4 separate regions of the Homo sapiens genome follow, and regions 1, 2 and 3 are each linked to region 4. Evidence: fine-mapped expression QTL. A gene starts in region 4. Each other region holds a variant in brackets. All regions are shown on one strand. Distances are between the middles of the regions. Region 1 overlaps MFSD6 (major facilitator superfamily domain containing 6). Region 2 overlaps MFSD6 (major facilitator superfamily domain containing 6). Region 3 overlaps MFSD6 (major facilitator superfamily domain containing 6). Region 4 holds the start of MFSD6 (major facilitator superfamily domain containing 6).

Evidence for each region. PIP is the estimated chance that this variant, and not a neighbour inherited with it, causes the effect.
Region 1: its variant is the best candidate, but not a certain one, in a credible set for the expression of MFSD6 in subcutaneous fat (GTEx, PIP 0.57).
Region 2: its variant is the best candidate, but not a certain one, in a credible set for the expression of MFSD6 in nucleus accumbens (GTEx, PIP 0.63).
Region 3: its variant is the best candidate, but not a certain one, in a credible set for the expression of MFSD6 in whole blood (TOPMed, PIP 0.50).

What each region holds. Positions count from the first base shown.
Region 1 is chr2:190,479,998-190,485,682 of GRCh38, reverse strand. The region is part of intron 4 of MFSD6 (major facilitator superfamily domain containing 6); the gene reads right to left. It also overlaps a transcript of NEMP2 not described here. Among named protein-coding and RNA genes, the nearest start is that of NEMP2, 52 kb to the left of the region's middle. The variant AG/G (reference allele first, on the strand shown) is at 3,010.
Region 2 is chr2:190,454,989-190,460,673 of GRCh38, reverse strand. The region is part of intron 3 of MFSD6 (major facilitator superfamily domain containing 6); the gene reads right to left. It also overlaps a transcript of NEMP2 not described here. Among named protein-coding and RNA genes, the nearest start is that of MFSD6, 49 kb to the right of the region's middle. The variant G/A (reference allele first, on the strand shown) is at 3,496.
Region 3 is chr2:190,439,264-190,444,948 of GRCh38, reverse strand. The region is part of intron 3 of MFSD6 (major facilitator superfamily domain containing 6); the gene reads right to left. It also overlaps a transcript of NEMP2 not described here. Among named protein-coding and RNA genes, the nearest start is that of MFSD6, 34 kb to the right of the region's middle. The variant G/C (reference allele first, on the strand shown) is at 2,456.
Region 4 is chr2:190,404,969-190,410,653 of GRCh38, reverse strand. It overlaps MFSD6 (major facilitator superfamily domain containing 6), which reads right to left and starts at 2,299. Exons shown (of 8, transcript NM_017694.4): 1 at 2,151-2,299. RefSeq lists a silencer at 1,679-2,718 and an enhancer at 2,979-3,028.

The sequences.
Region 1 (5,685 bases), 75 kb before region 4:
TCAGAATTGAATAATGCCTGGATAGTCTTAATTATGAGTGTTGACACCATAGTACCTAATGGGAATAATTGTAAGTATTTTCATTTCTATTATTAAAGATGATGCTAAGTCCATTTCTTTTCACATATGCAGATTTTTTTTCATTAACCACACTGGGGGAAAAACTCAAAAATATTCCAAGAAATAAATTAATTTATTCAAAATTAATTAGATTCAATAGCAAAATCCAACACAGATTTGGAAATCATTTCTTAAAGATGAATTACCGAAAACCTGAAAACACATCAAATGGTAGTAGGTTAACTTTAATGCTGACGCCAAACCTCTTGTTATGTGTATGTCTAAGCAATCAATTGCAGGATTTACAAGCAACCAAAACATTAAAATATATTTATTATAATTCTAGATAAAAAACAATTCTAGCAGTTATTCTTTTAAGTGTGAAGGCTTGGACACACACAAACTCTTCCAACCACAGGGTTTGTATCTATTTTCCCCCTCTCAGAAATTCTAATCATTTTCTAAAACTTTGAGTGTTCTAAGATAATTAAAGCATTTTCCAGTGGGATGACTTAAGTCAGGATGCTTTTAAACTATTCTTAGAATTTACTGACTAGTATTAAGTGGTAGTTGTAAAAGATTCTCCACAGTTAGACTTCTAGTTTCTATATTGCTTTTGAGACTGATTAGATAATTGGGAATTACATTCTTTAAATTAACTCAGGGAATTAAGTGAAGGAAAAAATAGTAAAGCACAAAAACAAAATTTCTGATACTAAAAGCAGAAGAATGAAAGCCACTCTGCTTGTATGCTCTGATGTTTTCCAGGGCAGATACAGGATTAAAATTGATTTCCCTAAAATAACTTATTTTAAGATATCGTATAAGTGAAGAAGCAATTAAATTCATCTCATTTCTTAGATAGGAAACCAGCAAAATGTAGCAATCCGTAAGAAGGGATTAAATTAGAACATCATCTGTGTATACAAAAGACAGTGGTGGAGCTGCAGTTCTCGTTCATAAACTGGAACATGCAACTTTCTAGTAATCTTAATAATCTGAAGCTCTTGCCAATGTTTTTACTACATTTGTGTTCTGATTCTCTCGTTTTAAAATAACAAAAAAAGCAACCTAGAAACTTGAAAACCCTCCGCCATTTCCCATATTTGTAAGACAAGATTTAGGAAGTCTTAGGAATTGTGCTACCGAAAACGACATTCCTGTAAAGTAGAGGGGACAAAAGATATTATAAACTAGAAAAAGAAAATGCTTCTACTTTCTTAGTTATTAGAGAACTGTGAAAAAGCAGTAGATGATTATTCTTTATGTGATGAAATAAGCACATTTACTCAGTGGCATGGGTAAATGTGTTTACACTAGAATTACAAATTTTTAAACCTTTTTAAGTATGAGATAACAAAGTTGGTAGATCAAACAGTCAAAATACAAGCTATTACTCCCTGACTGACAACAGTAACAAGGGCACAGGAACTGACTCTCCTTGCAATGTGTTAACTCTTCCATGGCTGCTTGTCATAAAACCACTGAGCCTTCAGTGACAATTCAATACCAACTCACATAACAGGTGCTTAAATATATTGATTGAGAATGAATGACTCTCAGAGACCAAGTAGTCCACATAAACTTAGTTTCTCAGTCCTTCCTTACCTTTACTGGGATCCCCCAGGATTGGCTTTGAGGCACAGTAAAAATCAAGAGATATATCCACACTACCTACTGCCAAGACTTTACTTGGGATCCATTACATTTGAATAACCTAGAATCATTAAAAATAATTATGAGTAACATTAATTGTTTTCGTTAACTTTTTTTTTTTTTTTTTTTTTGAAAATGAGTTTCACTCTTGTTGCCCAGGCTGGAGTGCAATGGCGTGATCTCGGCTCACCGCATCCTCTGCCTCCTGGGTTCAAGCAATTCTCCTGCCTCAGCCTTCCGAGTAGCTGGGACTACAGGTGTGTGCCACCACGCCCAGCTAATTTTCGTACCCTTAGTAGAGACAGGGTTTCACCATGTTGGCCAGGATGGTCTTGATCTCTTGACCTCGTGATCTGCCTGCCTCGGCCTCTCAAAGTGCTGGGATTACGGGCGTGAGCCACTGCGCCCAACCCTGTTTTCATTAATATTATCACATCAGCTTACTCTACAAGGAATTGTGCTAAGTGTTTTACACAGATTATTGAATCTATTCCTCCAATAGGTACAGTACTATTTTTTCTTCATTTTCCAAAAAGGAAACCAAGGCACAGAGATATTAGATGCCTTGTCCAGAGTCACACAGAGAAGAGAGTTGTTGAATAGGATTTGAACCCAAGGTGTCCAAGTTCAGAGCTTAGGTGCTTAAATATTACACTATATGTTCTCATAACAATTGTTAGAAGTATTCTATAGTAAATGTAACTATCTACTTTGAGAGATTTTGTTGTTAATATCAAACATACCCCACAAGCTACCAGTTTAAAAGATGATAGTCGGCCGGGCGCGGTGGCTCACGCCTGTAATCCCAGCACTTTGGGAGGCCGAGGCGGGTGGATCACGAGGTCAGGAGATCGAGACCATCCTGGCTAACAAGGTGAAACCCCGTCTCTACTAAAAATACAAAAAAATTAGCCGGGCGCGGTGGCAGGCGCCTGTAGTCCCAGCTACTCGGGAGGCTGAGGCAGGAGAATGGCGTGAACCCGGGAAGCAGAGCTTGCAGTGAGCCGAGATTGCGCCACTGCAGTCCGCAGTCCGGCCTGGGCGACAGAGTGAGACTCCGTCTAAAAAAAAAAAAAAAAAAAAAAAAAAAAAAAAAAAGATGATAGTCTTAATAACTCTTCTCCACCCTTTCTGAAGAGCTGACATGTCATCTATATTGTTTTTTAAATGCCCCAAATACCTTATAACACTCAACACTGGTATCTGATTGTACAACATGCATTTCAAAATTGTTCAGTCTTGGCCCACAAGAATGCTCTACTGAAATAAATGGCATGTATGAGCAGGAAAAAA[AG/G]TCCTTTCTTCTTAAGGAGACAGCTGCTCTTTGTAAACTGTTGCTTGGCTTGGGGAAATCACATTATAATGGCTGGGAGGAGTGAGAACTGACACAGTACTAGGGAACTAGGATTGTTTTGTTTTTCTTCCTTCTGCCACTGACTTAAGCTTACTGAACAAAACATAACTATCCCTTTAGCATTGGCACACAGAATCAGCTGTGACAAACCTTTCCCATGAATAGACCAAAGCATACATTTCAATTAGTTCTGGGATTAAAAAAAAAAAAAAAGGAAAGCTTCCGAAAGGTCAACTTGGTGAAAATCAGTAAGAGACTATTCTTCCTAAGGAAAGGCCTCCATTGGGCAGGCAATAAAAGAAAAAGTCTATATTGGAAATCTTAGTGGTTTCACACATTAAATGTTTTCTTTTCTTGCTCACACAAAGTCCAATGAACAGGAGACAGGAGTAGTAGCAGCTCTGCTCCATAGTCATTCAGGGATCCAGGTTACAGAGAATCTGCCATCTGCAATGCCTGGTTACCCTAGGTATCAATATCCAGCTGACAGAGAAGGGAGTGACACACCTCTGCACCTGACCCATACAATTTCCCACGTGCTATCCTTTCCTCCTATCATTTCTGCTTTTATTCCGCTGGCCAGAATTAACCACATGGTCATACCTAACTGCAAGGGAGGCTGGGAAATAGAATCTAGCTGCATGTCCACGAAGAAAAGGAAACAGAGATGGTGAGTAGCAAGCCAGTCTCTCTGTCAGAGTTGGGGCTACTAACAGCAATACACCTTCCACAAATGGCGGAGGATCCTACAAAGAGCAATGGACTTAGCAGCAGCAGCAGCATGGATCTTCTGTGTGCTGCACGAAAGAAAGTTTATATAAGACATGCAACAATTTGTGTTAAAAGCCAACATTCCCACACCTATTGATGTATAGGACTGCAAGAATCCCCTTCATGCATTCAACAGTATTTACTCAGCATCTATATTATGTGCCAGATAGCCTGCTAGGCTTTGAAAATATGACAATATGCAAAATAATGTCCCCAGCCACCAAGGAGCTTACAGTCTGGCAGGTGAAAGGGGGCAGGATTTATCTAAAGGGGACGCAGACTGAGCTCCTTGAGAACAGACATATCCAGCACCCAGCAGAGGGCTGACATGTAACAGCAGCTGAACAAAAGGACATTGAACTGAAACAGGGTAGGCAGTGGTCTACATGTTGGGATATGACGAAGAAAGCATTTATGGATAAAAGGTACCCTGGGTAAGGTTGGAGAAAACTTCCAAATCCCATATATAAGTAAAAGTGGACAGAGGAAATAAAATAGTAGATCTCTTCTATAAGCTCTAGCTTGCAAACTTAAAAAAATATATGAGTTGCTTAAAAAAAGTCTATAACTGATGTAACAATGTTCTAGGGGGCCCTCGTGAATTTTTACATGCTGGCATTATGCCTTTGGCATACCTTTAAGCAGGTTTTAGGAGACTACCACCCAAAACCCAGGGAGTTTAATGTTAAGACTTGGCAACATTATACTACACGCCCAGTGTTTTCCCACCTGAAGCCACACATGAGAACTGCTTTTCTATCAGCCAATAAAGATTTCACTTATCTTCCTCAAAGATAACTTTATTAATAGTGTGCACTGACTAGCCACATTTCCCTTACGCTTTGGTCATTAGGCTTCAGCTTAATTCATAGCCAGGCTTTAATGCATAATTGAAGTTTAACTCCTTAGAATAGGATCTTTTAAATTATATTTTCTCTGATCCTGATTTATATTTATTTATAATTTATTTTACTTTTTTGTATTGTATGTTTTCTAACATTTATTAGAAGCTAACTGTGGGTCAGGTACTGTGCTAAATACTTTGCATGGATTAGTGTATTTAATACTCATGTCAACCTCTCCTATAACTCAAGAGTCTGTGGCTTAGAGAGATTAAGCATTTTGTCCAAAGACACAGAGCTTATAGGTAGGGGAGTTAGAATTCAAACCCAGATAGTCTAATTCAAGCCTTAGCACTTTATGGTTTCCGGATTATTGCATATTTTGGTAATCTGCCTCAGCTAACTTATAGAGTGAGGTGAGGGTATAAGTACTAATTAAAATACATGGGTGATTTTACAGATGTGTTATGGATGGCAAGATGTCATCCTAGGAAGAGCTTTCATAATGAAGGTTCAGCTTTAAATTTAATTTTCAAATTTTCTTCAGATACTTAATAAGTTTTTGAGATAGAATTTCTTATATCATTCAAAAGATATAAAAATTATAAACTACTAACTATAGTACATGATACAGGGGGCTGAAAAATGAATTAAACAACAAGCATTAATAGTGTATCTTCCTATATGTACATCTCTTTGGAGAACTGAAAAAGTATAAGCATGGCCTTTATGTTCAAGGGTTTAAACTAAGTTAGACAATAAAACTAGTATTTCTTCCCCATGCTCTTGCAGAGCATAAGAGGAGGAAAATGTGCTTTGTTTGTTTGTTGTTGTTTTGAGACAGGGTCTCACTGTGTCACCCAGGCTGGAATGCAGTGCTGCAATCACAGGTCACTGCAGCTTCAACCTTTTGGGGTCAAGCAATCCTTCCACCTGAGCCTCCCCAGTAGCTGGGACCACAGGCGCATGCCACCATGCCTAGCTGATTTTTAAATATTTTGT
Region 2 (5,685 bases), 50 kb before region 4:
CCTCTCCTCACAACACTTATCTTGGTTGTAACAGTGCACCTACAACCTGACTGCATTCTGCATGCAGGGTGAGGACTTTCATATTATGCTGGCTCATTTTTATCCCCAATGCTTGACACATACCAGGCACTCAGTAAATAGTCCGGAACGGAAGAGAAAATATGAATACTTCAAATAGAATATCAATTAACAAATACTTATTGAACATACTCTATGCTAAGTGCTAGGGATATACACTATGCACATATTATACATGTGTGCATACGCGAGTGTATGTATGATTAAGATATCTGATTATGGTATAGGAATAAGTGATGGGTATGTGAAAGAATGAATGGACTTAAAAAAGAGGCCTAGAAATATATTTAAAAAATAGATGTCTATATTCTGCAACATTTTTGACTAACATTAATAGGCTATGGTTGAAAATAAATATTTTTATTTATGTGGACAAACAATAAATAGCTCAATGAGTAGCTGATTACAGTTTGTTTATTTGGAGCATCCTGACGCACTGTGCAATGGAACTTCAGCACATGCTCTGAGCAGATAACAGGGTTCTGCTCACCACAAGCCTATCTCACCAGAAGAGTAAGAGCTAGGATATAAGCCACAAAGCTCAGAGTCAGTGGTAGTCCCACAGCATAGCTGAAGGGACCACCAAGGAGATCCTGGGAGCCACCAAGCTTCTATCAGCCAGCAGGTATGACTGGCCACTGACCCATCCTTGTAGAACAGAGCATAAGAATCACATTGTATGTCAGAGAGTGAATTAGAAATAATATTTAGCTGTGTATATTTTCTGCAGCTACTAATACTTCCTTCTATTGTTTCTGCTAGAAAGAGAAAAGGTAAAAGTAATTTGGGTCTGAGTCTCTACTAGCTGGAAATCATTTTGTTGTGTTCAGATTCTTCCCTCTAAAATGACTGATAAGCTAAGAGTGTAACTATGGTCACCATCAGCAGGATCACTGTGCTGGTCACTGTGCTGTGACCATGTTTATATCTCTCCATTGTTATTTTAGTTTATCTGTTTTTTTCTTAAGTTGTGTGTATCTCCAGGTAGAAAACTAGAGATGTTTAAAACAAAAGAGAACCTTGATTAATGGAACCCAACCACTTAGAAGACACAATATGCTGTTTTGTTGTTATATTTTTCTGTTTAGTCAAATGACTGAACATATTCACACACACACCCCCTACAATTTTGTTTAAAAATTTCCTAGGATATGGCTTAAGGTATACATATGACACAAACACTATAATTTCCTGAGAAGAATCACTGACATTTGGCATAGCCGTTAATTTTAAAAAGGCCTCAAGAGTTTTACTTGACCCTAAGCTAAATTTGACGAAGCTGAACAAGTTCATCGAAACTCAGGTTGAAGCAATGTCATGACCAAATCAAAAGCAGATACTAATCCTGCTGTTCCTGACTGTGGTGAGACACAGCAGGAATGGGTACAGTTAAGGGCATCACATCTTAAGAGATCACTGACGAAAACAAAAGAGAAAGGAGCCACAATATGGAGGGAGGAAAAAAGGAGTCTTGGATAGGATGTTCTGGGAGAAACCCCTAGGGAGTTGGAGAAGCAAAGCTGCAGGTGAGACTCAAGGATGGGAAGGGCTTTTCTACTGAAGAGGGGATGGACCCACTCTCTACGTCAGACTTGGGAGCAGTCAGTACAACAGATGTTCTTGTTTTACCTTCTGCTAAGCAGAAACTAAGCATGATTCTCTGTTCTCAGCTGAACTTGATCCTAGAGCTGCCTGGGACCTCTGGCGCAGGCCTTATGAGTAAGCCTGCCCAAAAGGAGACAGAGCTAATAGAGGGAGAGATGCAGGTTCTGATCGCGTCATCTGAGACCTGGTTAAAGCTACACCTCTGGTCATTTGCTGGACTTCTCAATTGGACAATACAGTCCCCATTTTACTTAAGCTTCTCTGGGTAAGGATTTTTGCCACTTTCACTGAAAGAGTCTCAAGTGACCTCCACTGCCTTTGGAGACAGCAAGTTCCATATCTCTAGAAACGGTCAAGCAAAGGCTAATAACCATCTGTCAAGCACTCGGGGGGAAGGGAATCTAAAACTGGGGTGAAGCTAGGCCTACAGGACTGTATTAGTTTGCTAAGGCTGCTGTAACAAATACCACAGACTGGGTGGCTTCAACAACAGAAATTTATTTTCTCACAGTTCTGGGAGCCAAAAGTCCAAAATCAAGGTGTTGGCAATGTTGGTTTCTCCAGGGCCCCTCTCGTTGGCTTGCAGACAAGTCATCCTCTCCCTGTGTCATCGCCTATCTTCCCTTGTGCCTATCTGTGGCCCCAATCTCTTCTCACGAGGACACTGCTCATAACAGATGAGGGCTGACCCTAATGACCTGATTTTAATTTCATGACATCCTTAAAGACCCTAACTTTAAATATGGTCACACTCTGAGGTACTGTGGGTTAGGACCTCAACGTATGAATCTTCAGGGGCCACAATTCAGCCCATTAAAATGCCCTTCGAGGTCACTTACAACTCCAACATCAAGCAAACTTGAGTAAAGAATGCCAGTATTTTTTTCCAGAGCCATTTCCTCCCTAGACCAGCAACAGAGTGTGTGACACCGCTGGCAGCTTCCTCGGGCCTCAACAGTCAGAGTGAGGCTGTATCCTTAGAGGAGGACTCTTCGCATTTTGTACAACCTAATCTGACCATATTTACTCATTTACTTTATTTCATGAATTGCTATTTGCTTTTCCAGTGGTTGAGGTCAAATGAAAACCTTTTACAAACAGTGCTAATTAATCTGGTTTTAAAATGGGCAGCATGGCGGGGCATATGCTGCACGCTGGCCAAGGTGGTGGCATCCAGGGCACATGCATAGTTGAGGTGGACTTTCTCAGGAGTGGTCATAACTGCTTTGGTTATACTAGAGTTTTGAAAAGATTAAACAAGCATGTAAAGAAAAACTGCAAAACACTGTGCAAATATGTAAGCTACCATTAAATTAAATGCAAATATTTCAGCAATAACAGCCACATCTTTTACAAATTCTGCCTGAGCCAGTACATGCAGAAGTGTCTGAGATTTGGGGTCCTAACTTCCATTCAGGTCAATTGGCTTCAAGGAAATAAAATTCTCTATGTAGATCCCAGCAACTGCTATCATAAAACACATCCCCTATCACTGGCTAGATGGTCTGTTTGAATGGCTTTGTGCACATTTTTGACTTGTCAGCAAAAAACACGCAAAGTCTGAGTCCTGGGGGTAGGGGGCCAACAGGAAGAAGTGGGGTCTGCTAGGTGGTTTTTTTCACATACTAAAACCAGCCAAAGAAGAAAGTTAGATCATTAGAGTCAGAACTGAAAGGAGCCATAGCATCCAGCTCGCTCTTTTCACAGAGACAAGGAAGGAGAGGGCCACAGGGGTGGACCGGGGCCACAAAGTCGGTTGGCCAGTGGAAGTCAAGGTCCCCATCCCCCTGCCAGACCATGCTCTTTCAGTAG[G/A]TAATAGCAATGTGCTATTTTCCACACTCCAAGCTCCCTACATGAAATCAAACCTAGACAAGGGCTTGAGGAAATACCTCTGGATTGGACCATAAGAAACGGACTAGCAGTGTTAGTGTAGATAGACTTCTGGACTTCTGAACTCAGCTGTGCGCGCGGATTAAGGAAGCTGGATGAACGTTTATGTTGGCATCAGAAGACGGTTGACATTTTAAACTTTGACGAGTCATTGGGAAGACTGGGGTAAGAGGAAAGTAGAAAAGCAAATGCCACTCAACAGTTGTCCAATATCCTAGATCAAAGGAGAAAAGCTTACCCAGAAGCAAAATTCTGTGTTATGAGAAGAAATGCGCTGAAAGATCATTTCTGCTGAGGTAGCCACAGAAACTGCAGGTATCGATGCTGAGGCAGGACGAGGGGTGAGCCAAGGTTTCCACCTCTTACCTGCAGCTGGACATGAGCTGTATCAAGCAGGCAGACTTTAAATAATCAGAAGTGGATGCTTGCCTTGTCAGGGATGGGGCACCATACACAGGATTGTGAAAGGAGAGGGGTGTGAACAGGCCACAGAGAGAATGGCAGGGACAGAGCTGTCCAGAGTCTCCCTCTTGGGCTTAGGCCATGCCATCAGCCCTGCAGGTTCCTAGAGCAGCCAGGGAGTTCCCGGAGTGGGGCTCATATCACCAGCGGGTTGAAAGGAGCCCCGATCTTTTCCATTCCTCAATTCCTGATGCGGCTCCACAGATCTCACAACGAAGAGTCTGAGCCAGGCCAGAGGCATCACTGGCTTTAGGGTCATCTCCCTCTCTGTCATTCCTGAACATTCACTAGCACTCAGACTGAAGTCAATGCAGTTCCCACTCACCATGCTAAACACCTTCTCTGTCTGAAGTGAAATTTAAGTCATGGATTTTTCAAGTAAGGAAAAAAGTAGAGCAGGCCAGGCATGGTGGCTCACACCTGTAATCCTAGCACTTTGGGAGGCTGAGGCGGGTAGATCACCTGAGGTCAGGAGTTTGAGACCAGCCTGACCAACATGGTGAAACCCCATCTCTACTAAAAATATAAAAATTAGCTGGGCATGGTGATGCATGCCTGTAATCCCAGCTACAAGAGAGGCTGACACAGGAGAACTGCTTGAACCCAGGAGGCAGAGGTTGCAGTGAGCCGAGATCATGCCGCTGCACTTCAGCCTGGGTGACAGAATGAGACTCAGTCTCAAAAAAAAAAAAAAAAAAAAAAAAGCAGAGTAAATACAATTACAGTAGACTCCTTCCTACCTCAAACCTGTCAACTTGAACTTTTATGGCTAGAAATTTTGCTCTATTCTGTTTTTAAATGAGGAACTGTAACTGATATAGTTTTTTCCAACCACTCATGTCCTTTCTTTTGTGACAGGAATCACAAAAAAAAAAGGAAGGGCATCAGTTCCAGCAATCTCTGAGACCTCCGCACGATGCCCCTGCACCGTGCCCACCCTCCATACTAACAATTCTATAATGTTCTCCAATTTTTAAGCATTTTTTTCCACTTCATATCTCATGTATTTCTGCCCATAATCTTCTGAAACAGGAAGGATAAGCGTTGTTATTAATCCTCTTTTACAGCTGATGAAACCAAGGCCCTGAAAGGTTCACCAAGTTGCCAGGGTCGTGCAGATCAACAAACTGCAGAAGCAAGACTCAACCAGGTCTTCTGCTGTCAAATCCTGTGCCCTTCCCATGGCCAGCAGAGCCTCCCCCAGCTGGATCAGAAACCTTTCAGGGAAATTTAGAAGGTGCTTTCTTTCATACACACAAAAAGTAGTGATCACTTAACCTTAAAATCTTGTTTCACAAAGATGTTGTAATATTATACCTATACTTAAAACGTTAGATTTCTAATAAAATTTAATTAATAGAGCTATGAATAACTTAATAGTAATAATGAAAGTCATAGTAATTAATAGTAACTTAATAAATAGCAATAAAATAGCAATGATACTAGTCTCTATTTTGATGATACCAATATTAGTGTCTAATGTATACAAAAGAGCATGGGATTATAAACTAGACAACCTGGGCTAAAGTCTCCAACTCCACCACTCAGAAGGGACTTTGGGCAAAAAGCAAATCTGTTCCTTTCCAGGCTTGCATGGTGGATCTGCTTACCAACACACATATACATATACATATACATTATACATATACA
Region 3 (5,685 bases), 34 kb before region 4:
TGCTACAGTTAATTTACCAAGATACATAGTGCAAAAACAAGGAAAAAGATTAACGTCACTTTTTACTATGATTTTGTATAAAATAATTGGAATTTAAAATAGGGCACAAAACATTATCTTTATGAAACACTTGTTTCTGAATGAAATGGAGGATGGTTTTAGCACCCTAATACTCAGTTTCAAAACTGTAACAATAAAGTTACACAAGATGATATAAATTCTAACCCCTGTAGAAATGTTGGACTGATTATCCAATTTCAGGAGTTACAGTGTGGCTTTATGTTTGTTTTCTTTAGTGCTTTGCCATGGTTTTTATATAATAAATGAAAAACACAAACAAAAAACACAAAACTGAGTTGTGGAGAATGATGACTTCGATGGAACCATAAAATCTCCCCTACACTAAAAAGAAAAGAACACACAGCCACTTTACATCTGCAATCCACCTTCCTCAGACCTTGTGAGTAAACTCCTGTTTCACTGCTACAGAGCACTCATTTATTTCACATTTTAAAAACTGACACTGATATTACAGTAGAACTGATGTTGTGGCTAAACTATATTCTACAGTGCCTATAAGTTGGCTGGCAGGATTCCACATGGAATCTTCGTACCTCTGTGAAAAACTGGGCCATGACCAAGAATACTCATACACTGGGCTTAAAGCCACAGTCAATTACTTGTACTGCTCTGGCAGAGAAAACACAGGCCAAACAGGTCTCATTTCACCAGTGCTAAGAAAAGTTATTACCTTTTATTTCATTAACTAGTCAGATGACATCAAATCAACAGTTTTTTTACACATATCCTACAAAATTGAAAGTATAAAAGTACTTCATTTTCTAGTACTGATTAACTTAATTAGACTACTCATTTTTTCTCCTTTTCTTTTTTGAAACAGGGTCTTGCTCTGTCACCCAGGCTGGAGTGCAGTGGTGTGATCACAGCTCACTGCAGCCTTGACTTCCTTTTGGGCTCAACAGATCCTCCCAGCTCAGGCTCCCAAGTAACTGGGACTACAGGCGTGTGACACCATGCCCAGCTAATGTTATTTTTTGTAGAGACAAGGTCTCACCATGTTGCCCAGGCTGATCTCGAACTCCTGGGCTCAAGACATCCTCCTGCCTCAGCCTCCCAAAGTGCTGGGATTATAGGTGTGAGCCACACCCAGACTAGACTAATCTTTAAGAAGACAACCTTTGTTTATAAGAGCAAAAGATTCTATTATATAAAGGCTGTATCAGGAGTGCACTTCCAATTTGATATAACTCCATTTCATTTGAAAATCTATGGTCATCAGAAATTTGGGGAGAAAAATTTCAATTTGACTAAGATGTTTAAGGGGGAATGTTAGTTATTTTGAAAATCATAAACATCTTGACTTTGCAGGTTTAATCATCTGTACACTTCTGATATTGTACTGTCAACTTGTATTTTTATCAACTTCAATGGGTCTTGTAGTTATAAACAGCATAATATATCAGACTGACAGAAAAAAAGTAAAATAAGCTGAACTCCTAATCTATGCTGGTCATTGTTGAAGCAATTGCCATGTTTTATCTCATCTAGTCTTCATAAAAAACCCTAAGAAGCAGGTACTAATAATATCCCTATTTATAGATAACAATACAGAGATGCAAAAAGTTCTGTAACTTGTCCAAGGCCATATAGTTCCAAGTTGCAGAGCCAGGCAATCTGACTCAGCCTCTGCTCGTAACCACCATACAATCCTTAAAGTCCTGTTCCTTTTATTTTTTTTCTCCCTTGCTTATGTCTTAGGCCCACCTAGGAACACCCACAGAGGGTTCCTGGCTCAGGTGATGATATTGGGGGGTGCTCAGAAAGTCCATTGCTGCTAAAACAATATATAGAAACAGGTTACGGTAATACCATAATGACAGTTCCATATAACACAAAATATTCTCAAGCATAAGGATACTTACTTTAAGCAATAAAGCACAGACCAACATTTCAATAAATCAGAAACTTGAAATACTATCTTGGAGACAATTATAATTGATTTTCCTCAGCCCATTTCTCTTCTTAGACGACAAGATTTCCTTGTTGATCTTATCCACATTCCCGATTTTCACTGCTGCAAATCTGCATCCCGTCCTAACCTCTCCTATAAGCTTCAGACTTACAATATTGTGTCAACTGCCTGCTAGACATCCCCATCTAGATGTTTCAATTTCAAACCAAACAATCACACCCCCACCCCATTCTACATCTCCTTTCTGAATTTCCTATTAGATTTTTGGAATTACCATACCAAGCTGGAAATGTAGGGGTCTCTACCTCACTTCCACATCCAAATAATTCTGTCAATTTTACCTCCCAGATCTATTCCTTCCCTCAATTTCTGTTGCTACTGCTGCAGTTCAGGCCTGTACCGTCTCTTACTTGGACTATTTTAAGAACCTTCTCAGTGGGCTCCTGGCTTCAAAGTTACCCT[G/C]CATAGCAACATTCAAAGCAGGGAGGAACATATGAAAATCTATGGTCCTCCCTGCTTTGAACCTTGCTATGGCTACCTACTGCCTCCAGATGAAATTCAGGTTACTGATCCCAGCATCCATCTGGCCTCAGTCTCTCCTGTTTTTTCCAACACGCTTCCCTTTAGTATTCAGCCCCTGCATCTTACTAATCTGAGGCTCTTTGGGCCTAAATAACTGTTCAACTAAATTGAACAAATGTCTAGGATTTTGATTTTTAAGTAATATAGAATAATACTTGGTCCTCTAGAGCATGTAGAATTCATAATTCCAAATTTACTATGAGAATTAAGTCATCTTTTAAAACATTTTTATTGTGGTAAAAACCATTTTTAAAGAAGAATTAATCCTCCCTTAAGGAATCAGAATGGGGAAAAAGTTATTTAAGGTCTACCATCTTTTTGCTTTTTAATCAATAATTGAGTTATTCTATTTGTATTCTGTTTCTTCACAGTATCAATTGCCATCAGGAGTCTTTGTAAGTAGTGAAGAGTGGTGGATCAGGATCTCATCAGAGGCAGGCACCAATCTGACTTAATTCAGGGACTTGGTTAGGTAGGTGACAGAAAAGCTGGGAAGCCAGACCACTGTGAGAACCACAGGCAGCCTCTCCACGGCCTTGGGCAGAAGAATAAAGAGAGGAGAGAATGTTGTTGGAGCTCAGGGCCACCCACAGTGGGTGGGGCATAGGTGAGACGCAGCAGCTCACAGAGGTCTCTAGAGCTGAGGAGACAAGGCTGAGAGTCTGGGAAGCGGGACAGAGTACCCACGTGGAGAAAGCTACAGAGAGAGAGGACTGTAGAGATCTGTAGCTTCCCTAGAGTCTTCAGCTGAGTACTGACCAGCACATGTACATAAGTAAACTACAAGAGGCCAGAGAGAGGACTAGAGGGAACCATCTCCAAATCTTACACAAACATGCTGCATGAGCTGGAAAGAGAAATATAAATGCCCTGCTTTCCCCCCAACCCCCGCCCCTCCTCCTTTCCTGTAATCCTCCCCTTACCTATGCCTCCCATTAGCCTGGTGGTTCTCAACCTTGGCTGCACAAACTAGAATCAACTAGGAAGCTGTAAAAACGTTGAATGCCTCGGTACACCCCTAGAAAGACTGATGTAATTGGTCTGGGTGCAACCTGGGCATTAGGAGCTTTAAAAGCTCTCTTGGTGAGTTGAGAACCAATACATTAGCCGAACCCAAGTAGAAGACACGAGAACAGACCCTGGAAAACATAGCCTACAGAAATCAGCACCCTTTCATACGGGGCAAGGAGAGGATCTGAGAGCCTGTGGGCCTAAGATCAGCAAAGATGGCACAAAGAGATGGGTAGAAATAAGATGATGAGAAGAAGGAGAAAAAAAAGTAGGCATGATCTTCCTTAAACCCTTCAGTGGCCAGCTCACATTGAACACCCGGCTGCAGAGTTTCTTCCCTCTTATAATACTTACTGCTATTCCTCCAGTGACCAGACTATCATGTGCCACCTCCCATGTGTCCTTGGCTGTGCTGAAGCCCAGCATCTTGCTATCTGTTCTGGTTCATCCTGCAGCATCCCATCAGGAAACCCTGGTGTTCCTCCTCTTACTAGCTGCATCAGGTATTTTCTTCTTTCCCAAACTGACTGGCTAGTTCATTTGTATATTTTGCTAATATTAAGTAGTAATTGATGGCTAATAATAGGTAATGTAACCCCCCCGGATAATATTTGCATGGCAAAACAGACCTTGAGTGTAAGAATTTCAGGGCAAAGTCACAGATTGATTGAATAGATTTTTCTGTGTCCCTTAAAATGTAAATAAATTTAAATCAAATAACATAGGGGATGGCCTAACATTGGAAAGTAATGATTTACAAATTTACAAATGATTTACTGCAATGTATTTTGATTATAATCCTACTCATAGCTGCTAAAATGTTAAGCAATGTGAAGATACCTTAAGATACATTTATATCCTGTTAATCATTTATAGCCTAAAAATATACTTGCTGTAAATTCCAAAGTCTTATGATTTTGGATCAAAAGAAATTTATTTTTAAAAGTGGAAATATTTAGCATTATTATCCTATTTGCCTGAGAAAGTCACCTTCCAGAGAAGGACAAAATCCAAGGTCAAAATCAGAAATCAGATACTCTATGTGTGTGTGTTTAGACTGACAGGTCAGTCCCTGAGAAACTGGTTGTATATTGTGAAACTGTTAAAATACTGAGTTCAAAACTGGACATGCTATTTTTAAAAAACTATTTTCTGGTATGAATCTTTCTTATTATTACTCTAGATGAAGAATTTGTGAATCTCCACAAATATATGGTAGTGCCAACTCCTAAAAACAAACTTCCAACAGGACAACCACAAAGTACTGAAATAATATACATGCATGCATAAAGGCCATGGGCAGATCTACTTCTGTGATCCTACAAGCAACACATCAAGGCTCATAATTCAGAGATCATTTCTCTTCACCAACTACTTAATGAATGGTATTCTTCCAGTGGAAAGTTTAAATCCCCAAATCACAACCAATACCACCTGACTGAGCTCCCAAAATTATCACTAAAAGGAACAGATCCATTCTACCTAAGTATGTGGACATATTCTCATTTTAGCTATCAGACTCTTTTAAAAGCACTTGAAATAATTAATACATTTTAATGGACAGAATGAAAATTCAAAACAGGTAAATGACCACATACTGATGGAATTCCCACAGACTCTTGGGAGCAATATGACCATAACAGCCATCTTCTTCCATCACATTATTAAACAAGAAATGGAAGATGCTTTTTGTCCGTAAAAACCAGAAAATTAAGGTTAAGTGAATTTTGAAATGATGAGTAACTAATACTACACAGGAAAGAAACACACAAGTCTAAGCTTACCAAAGGAGTAGTAAACCCACTAGGATTTTATCATGAAAATGCTGCATATGTCTCAGACAAAAGGCAAAGGTAGAAGAGAACCATCTTTTCTTAGCATGTGGAAATAACCTAACAATTCCTTTGAAAATAGAACCTATCTATACACATGCAACAAATCTGCACGTTGTGCACGTGTACCCTAAAACTTAAAGTATAATAAAAAAATAAACAAATAAAACGTGAAAAAAAAGAAAATAGAACCTAAACACATACTCTGTACTGAGTCAGTGTTCAACTCATGCTATTGACTTATTAAATAATGATGTCTAAGAACTC
Region 4 (5,685 bases):
TCAAAGGAAGTAAAACAAAGAAACCTGTCAGCTTCATACTGCCTTCAATCTACAACTGGTGAGGACAAAAGGGTAAACATACACACATTAATATACATACGTAATAAATATATAAATTATCCTACATGGCTAAATGTTAACATAAGTAATACATGTACATTGAAATCAAGTTAATTTTCAAAGGCACGAAGCTAAGGAAGACATCTGCGTAGGTGGAGAGACTTAATAGGTTCTGATTAGGGAGGGACACCATGTGGAAATTTCCTGGGCTTTGGAGCCAGAAACATGAGGTCAAATTTAACTCTACCTCTTACTGATTATGTGGTTTGTGTAAGTTGCTTAACCCTTCTGAGCTTCCTTTTTGTCATGCACAGAACTAGGGGAAAGATTTATCTTACAGAGATTGAGATACTAAATGTTTACAATGGTGTCTTGAACATAATAAGTACCCAAAAAAATGCCTTAATACTGTTAATAGTCCAGACACTATATATGATGGAATTGGTGATCCAATACTCACACCACCAAATACCTGTGAACTCTGCTTTTTGTCTTTGTGTTTTATTTGCCTTCACGCTTTTATATTTATTTGTATAGAGATGGAAAGTGCCTTAGAAATAAACTGCTGTAAACATGAAGGACACACAACTACTTAGTAGCTTTAATGCATTATTGAAGTGATGTTCTCTCCTCCTGTTTCCCCAGAGCATCCTGCACTGGGCTCATTAACAATGTCCCATCCTTCCCCTAAGCAATCCTAAATTTTACTTACACCTCGTGATAAATACAAGCCATCTGACTATCACTAAACAGCTGACCATATCCTGCACCTCTGCTAGCAGCTTGACGTGTCAAAAGCCAAGCTTCCCAAAGAGGAGGATCCTATCCTTTTACTTAACAAGGCTAAAACAGATGCATACACTTTTAGCTGGCTAGTGCCCACATCTTGGGGAAAGGACCTACCAAGTACACATCTCCTTTTATTACATATTTTAGTCAACTGTATGTCCACCCACCCTTCACATTCATCTATACTTAAGAGGTTAGATTTCTAGAAAATCATGGACTTCTAGAAGGATTAGGGGAAATTTTGGCCACTATAATATCCAACCATCCTCTTTTCCATGTGAGAAAACTGGGGCTCAGGAAGATGTGACATGCCCAAGCACACACATCTATTTAAATACCAGTTGGGATTAGAACCCCAACTCTTTAAGTCTTTTGCACACTAATAAGCAAGGTATTATATGTTCCAGTAGTTCTGTGAGGTGCTTATTCAATCTTTTTGGGATGAAAAGAAACGTCCGTGGTTGCGAATGCATAAAGGTAATTAACCCACCTGTCTGTCCATGTGGGGATGGGATTAACGAGGGGGAAAGTTGCGTTTGTATTTTTCCACCATCTTACCTAAATTTGCAGGAAAATTGCTCTATGGGCAATAAATATGACCCAGAAAGACTAGCAACCCCCAGTAGTATCTCAAAAGGGCTCCAGAGACATGTTAGACCAAGTGGAAGTAAAGCACGAGGTGGGGGATGTCTGCTAGGATGGTGGCTGGCAGAGCAGAGGTATTTTTTTTTCCGTATTTATTAACCTGGGAGGGCAGACGTTGTCAATTTCCTCCTCCTGCCACACAAGTGGCCGCGTCCTTGTCACTGGGGCTGTGTGGAGGTTCTCACCTCCTCCTTTTTCCCAGGGATGTTTATGGCGAGGGCGCGGGTCGGCCCGGGCGGAGGAGGACCCGGGCATCGGCGCTCACCCTCCGTCCCCACCCGCGGCAGCAGCTGTGGGCGCCCGGCGAGGGCTCCCTGGGCAGCGCCTTTGTTTTCCCGACTCCAGTTACGTTTGCGGAAGTGCTGCCAGCACGGGGCGCGCTGGGGGCGCAGGCGGCAGCCTCCCCCAGCACCCCACAAAGATGACACCCGACACGGAAGCCGGGGGAGGGAGGGAGGGAGGGAGCGGCGGGCGAGCGAGGCCCGAGCGGAGACAGCGGCGCACGCTGGGCTCCGAGCCCCGGCCCCGAAGCCCCTTTCCCGGCAGCAGGTGTGCGCGGCTGAGGTGCCTACCCGCCCTCCGGCTGGGCCCGTGCGGGGCGGGGGAGGCCAGGGCGGGTCTGCGAGCCCCTTCTCCGCAAGCCGGGCCCGACTCACCTGCTGCGGCGGCGGCAGCGCTCAGCTGCGCGGGGCGCGGGGAGCCCTGTCCCCGGAGCACGGGGCGGCGGCTCGGGGCGCCGGGGCGGCGGCTGTCGGGGCAGCGCGCACCATCCCGGGCTGCTCGCGCGCTCCTCCGGGGCTGCGACGGGCTGGGCGGGGCGCGGCGAGGCGAGGCGAGGGATGCGGACCGGGTGGGGCCACGGAGGACGGAGGCGGAGGGCCCAGCGCTCCCGCCGGCGCGACCTTCTCTCCCGCTGCGGCTCCTCCTCCTCCCCGGCCCCGGCCTCACAGTCGCCGCCGCCGGTCACTACCGGCTGGACCCGTTTCAGGGCCGGGCGCTGAGGACCGGCCGCCAGGTGCAGCGCTCCGCCTCCTGCGGCGGCGGCGGATGCGTCGACTGCCCGCTCCCGGCCTCCAGCCCGCCCCGGCGGCCCGGAGGGACACCTGAACCCAGCCGGGCCCGGGGAGCACGCTGAGGAGGCGAAAGCACTGGGCGAGGCTCCATCCCTACCGCACCCTCCACCCCCCCGCACCCCCAAGCGACTTCCGCTGAGCCCCCAGGCAATGAGTGCGGGCCAGGAAATGTGGGGGAAAATGTACTAACATCCCTTATTCCTTGAGCGCCTTTTAAGTGGCACACACAATGCTAATGCTGTCAGTGCGTTATCTCCGCGTCTGTCCCAGGTTGACCCGGGAGGGAGGAGCCGGCGGGGTGCGGGAGACAAACGATCTGTGAGTTTCGGGGCTCACCAAGAAGGGGGAACACTGAGACGAAGGCACCCTTTTTCAGGAAGCTGCTACTGGCATCTTGCTGAAAAGCCAACCGTGTGTGTCGCACTAAGAATATAATTAAAGTTGTATTTCTAGTTAAACACGCAGAGAGTTGGGGGAGAGTGGAGTATTCACTTGGCAAGTATGTCTGTGTGCCTGTGATGGGCTTTGGGGGATGCCACATCCTGTTCTTAAGGAGTTTATTGTCTTGTTCTGGCAACAACGACAAGAGTGACAATGGTAGCTAACGGCAACAACGACAAGAGTGACAATGGTAGCTAACGCTTATAAACATCGATTATGTACGGGGCACTGTGTAGGTACTCTTTGAGCCTTATAACCCTATAGGTGTAGGAAACGTTATTCCCATTTTACAACTGAGGAAAGCCGAGGCTGAAAGTTAATGTGACCCATCCAAAGTTACTAAACAGCGAAAGGGAAAGCAGGCTTCTTTTGTCTCCAGGCTTTAAGCTCTTAACCGTGAAATCATACTGGTAAGAATTTGATAGGCCCTGAAGTTTCTGAATTTTGAGTCCCTCTTTAGGAAGAATAAAACAATTACAAATACGAAGTTTCTAGGGCCCCTTCCTGAGCTTATGAAGGGTCTCTGAAGCTTAAACTATAGTAGCCTCATGCTAAATCCACTTTCAATATTGACGTAGATATTCAATCATTTCTTTCTCCAGGCATTTCTTTCTCCTGTCAGGAACACGAGACACTGGTCCCCTCCTTGAAACTCTTCCCTTCTCTTCTTTTGGTGCTCCGTAAGTGTTGGATTTTCCTCCTTGAAACTCTCCCCTCCTCTGCCTTCTGTGACCCACAAGTCTTGGGTTTTCCTCTTCCTCTCTGGCCACTCCCCTTTGCTCCACTTGAGTTTTAGTTTTCCTTGGGTTTTGTTCTAGGCTTTCCTTTCTTCTGATTCTGTTTGTTTCTGCGAATTCTCTCACTCCTTGGCTTCAATCACAGAATATTTGAGGGTGCTCCAAAAGCCCTCTCTCGGGGTCAGCTTTTCTCCTGAGGGCCAGATCCTTATGGCCAGTTGTCCAGTGGGATGTGTCACAGGCACCCCAACCTCACTAAGTGCCACGTCAATGTTTCTTTACCTTCTGTTCTTCCCCTACTCGTTTTTTTTTTTTAAGATGGAGTCTCACTCTGTCGCCCAGGCCGGATTGCAGTGGCGTGATCTCAGCTCACTGCAACCTCTGCCTCCCGGGTTCAAGTGATTCTCCTACCTCAGCCTCCTGAATAGCTGGGATTACAGGCATGTGCCACCATGTCTGGCTAATTTTTGTATTTTTAGTAGAGATGGGGTCTCACCGTGTTGGCCAAGCTGGTCTCAAACTCCTGACCTCAAATGATCCCCCCACTTCAGCCTCCCAAAGTACTGGGATTACAGGTGTGAGCCACTGCACCCGGCCCCTCATTCACTCTTGCTTCTGGGTTCCCAGACTCTGGGGTCCCAAACAGCCATCCACCCAGTTGTACAAGGCCCTTCTTCTCAATGCTCCTTTCACCCTTATACCCATGCCCAGTGTATTAGTTACCTATTGCTGCTGTAACAAGTTATCGTAAACTTTGTGGATTAAAACACACATTTATTATCTTACGATTCTGGAGGTCAAGAGTCCAAAATGGGTTTTAGTGAACTAAAACCAAGGTGACTACAAGGCTGTATTCTTTCTGTAGGCTGTAGAGAATAACCCATTTCTTTTACCTTTTCCACTTCTAGGGGCTGCTCACATACTTTGGCTCATGGACCCTTCCTCCATCTTCAAAGCACACCACTCTAACCTCAGCCACAATCCTCACATTGCCTTTTCTGACTCTGACCCTCATTACATTGGGTTCACCTTCATCATCTAGCGTAATCTCCTCCTTTCAAGAATCTTAATCCCATCATCAAAGTCCCTTTTACCATGAAGCATATTCACAGGCTCCTGGGATTGAGACATGGACATCTACAGCGGGCCATGACTCTGTCTATGACATCCAGTCAGATGCCAAACTCTTGATTCTACCTTTTCAAATATCTCTAGCACCTGTCCTCTTCTCTCCATCCCTGTGCTATCCTAATCTCTGTTATCTCTCCTTTGCCTGCAAAATTTCTCTGGTCTCTCTGCCTCAAAATGTTCTCTCATCCAATCAACTTTTCACTTTGCCACCAAAGTAATCTGTTTTCTTTTCTTTTCTTTTCGACAGGATCTTGCTCTGTCACTCAGGCTGGAGTGCAGTGGTGTGATCATAGCTTACTGTAACCTCGAACTCCTGGGCTCAAGGGATCCTCACACCTCAGCCTCCCAGGTAGCTGGGACTACAGGTGCATACCACCATACCCAGCCAATTTTTAATTTTTTTTGTACAGGTGGAGTCTCACTATGTTTTAGGAGAGGAGCAATGTTGGCTGGTTGCACAGCTAGGAGGTACAATACAATGTGAAGGGTGCCTCATGGTGTTGCACAATCCTATGAGACAGCAAAGAAATTACATGGTAAGGTGTTTGTAAAGATTCTTTTGGTGTTGGGCGTAGTGGCTCATGCGTGTAATCCCAACACTTTGGGAGGCCAAGGTGGGCGAATCACTTGAGCCCAGGAGTTTGAGACTAACCTGGGCAACATGGCAAACCTCATCTCTCAAAAAGTACAAAGATTAGCCAGGTGTGGTGGCATGCCTATAGTCCCAGCTACTAGGGAGGCTAAGGTAGGAAGATTGACAGAGCCCGAGAGGTCAATCTCCCAACCTTAGCAGTGAGCCATGATTACAC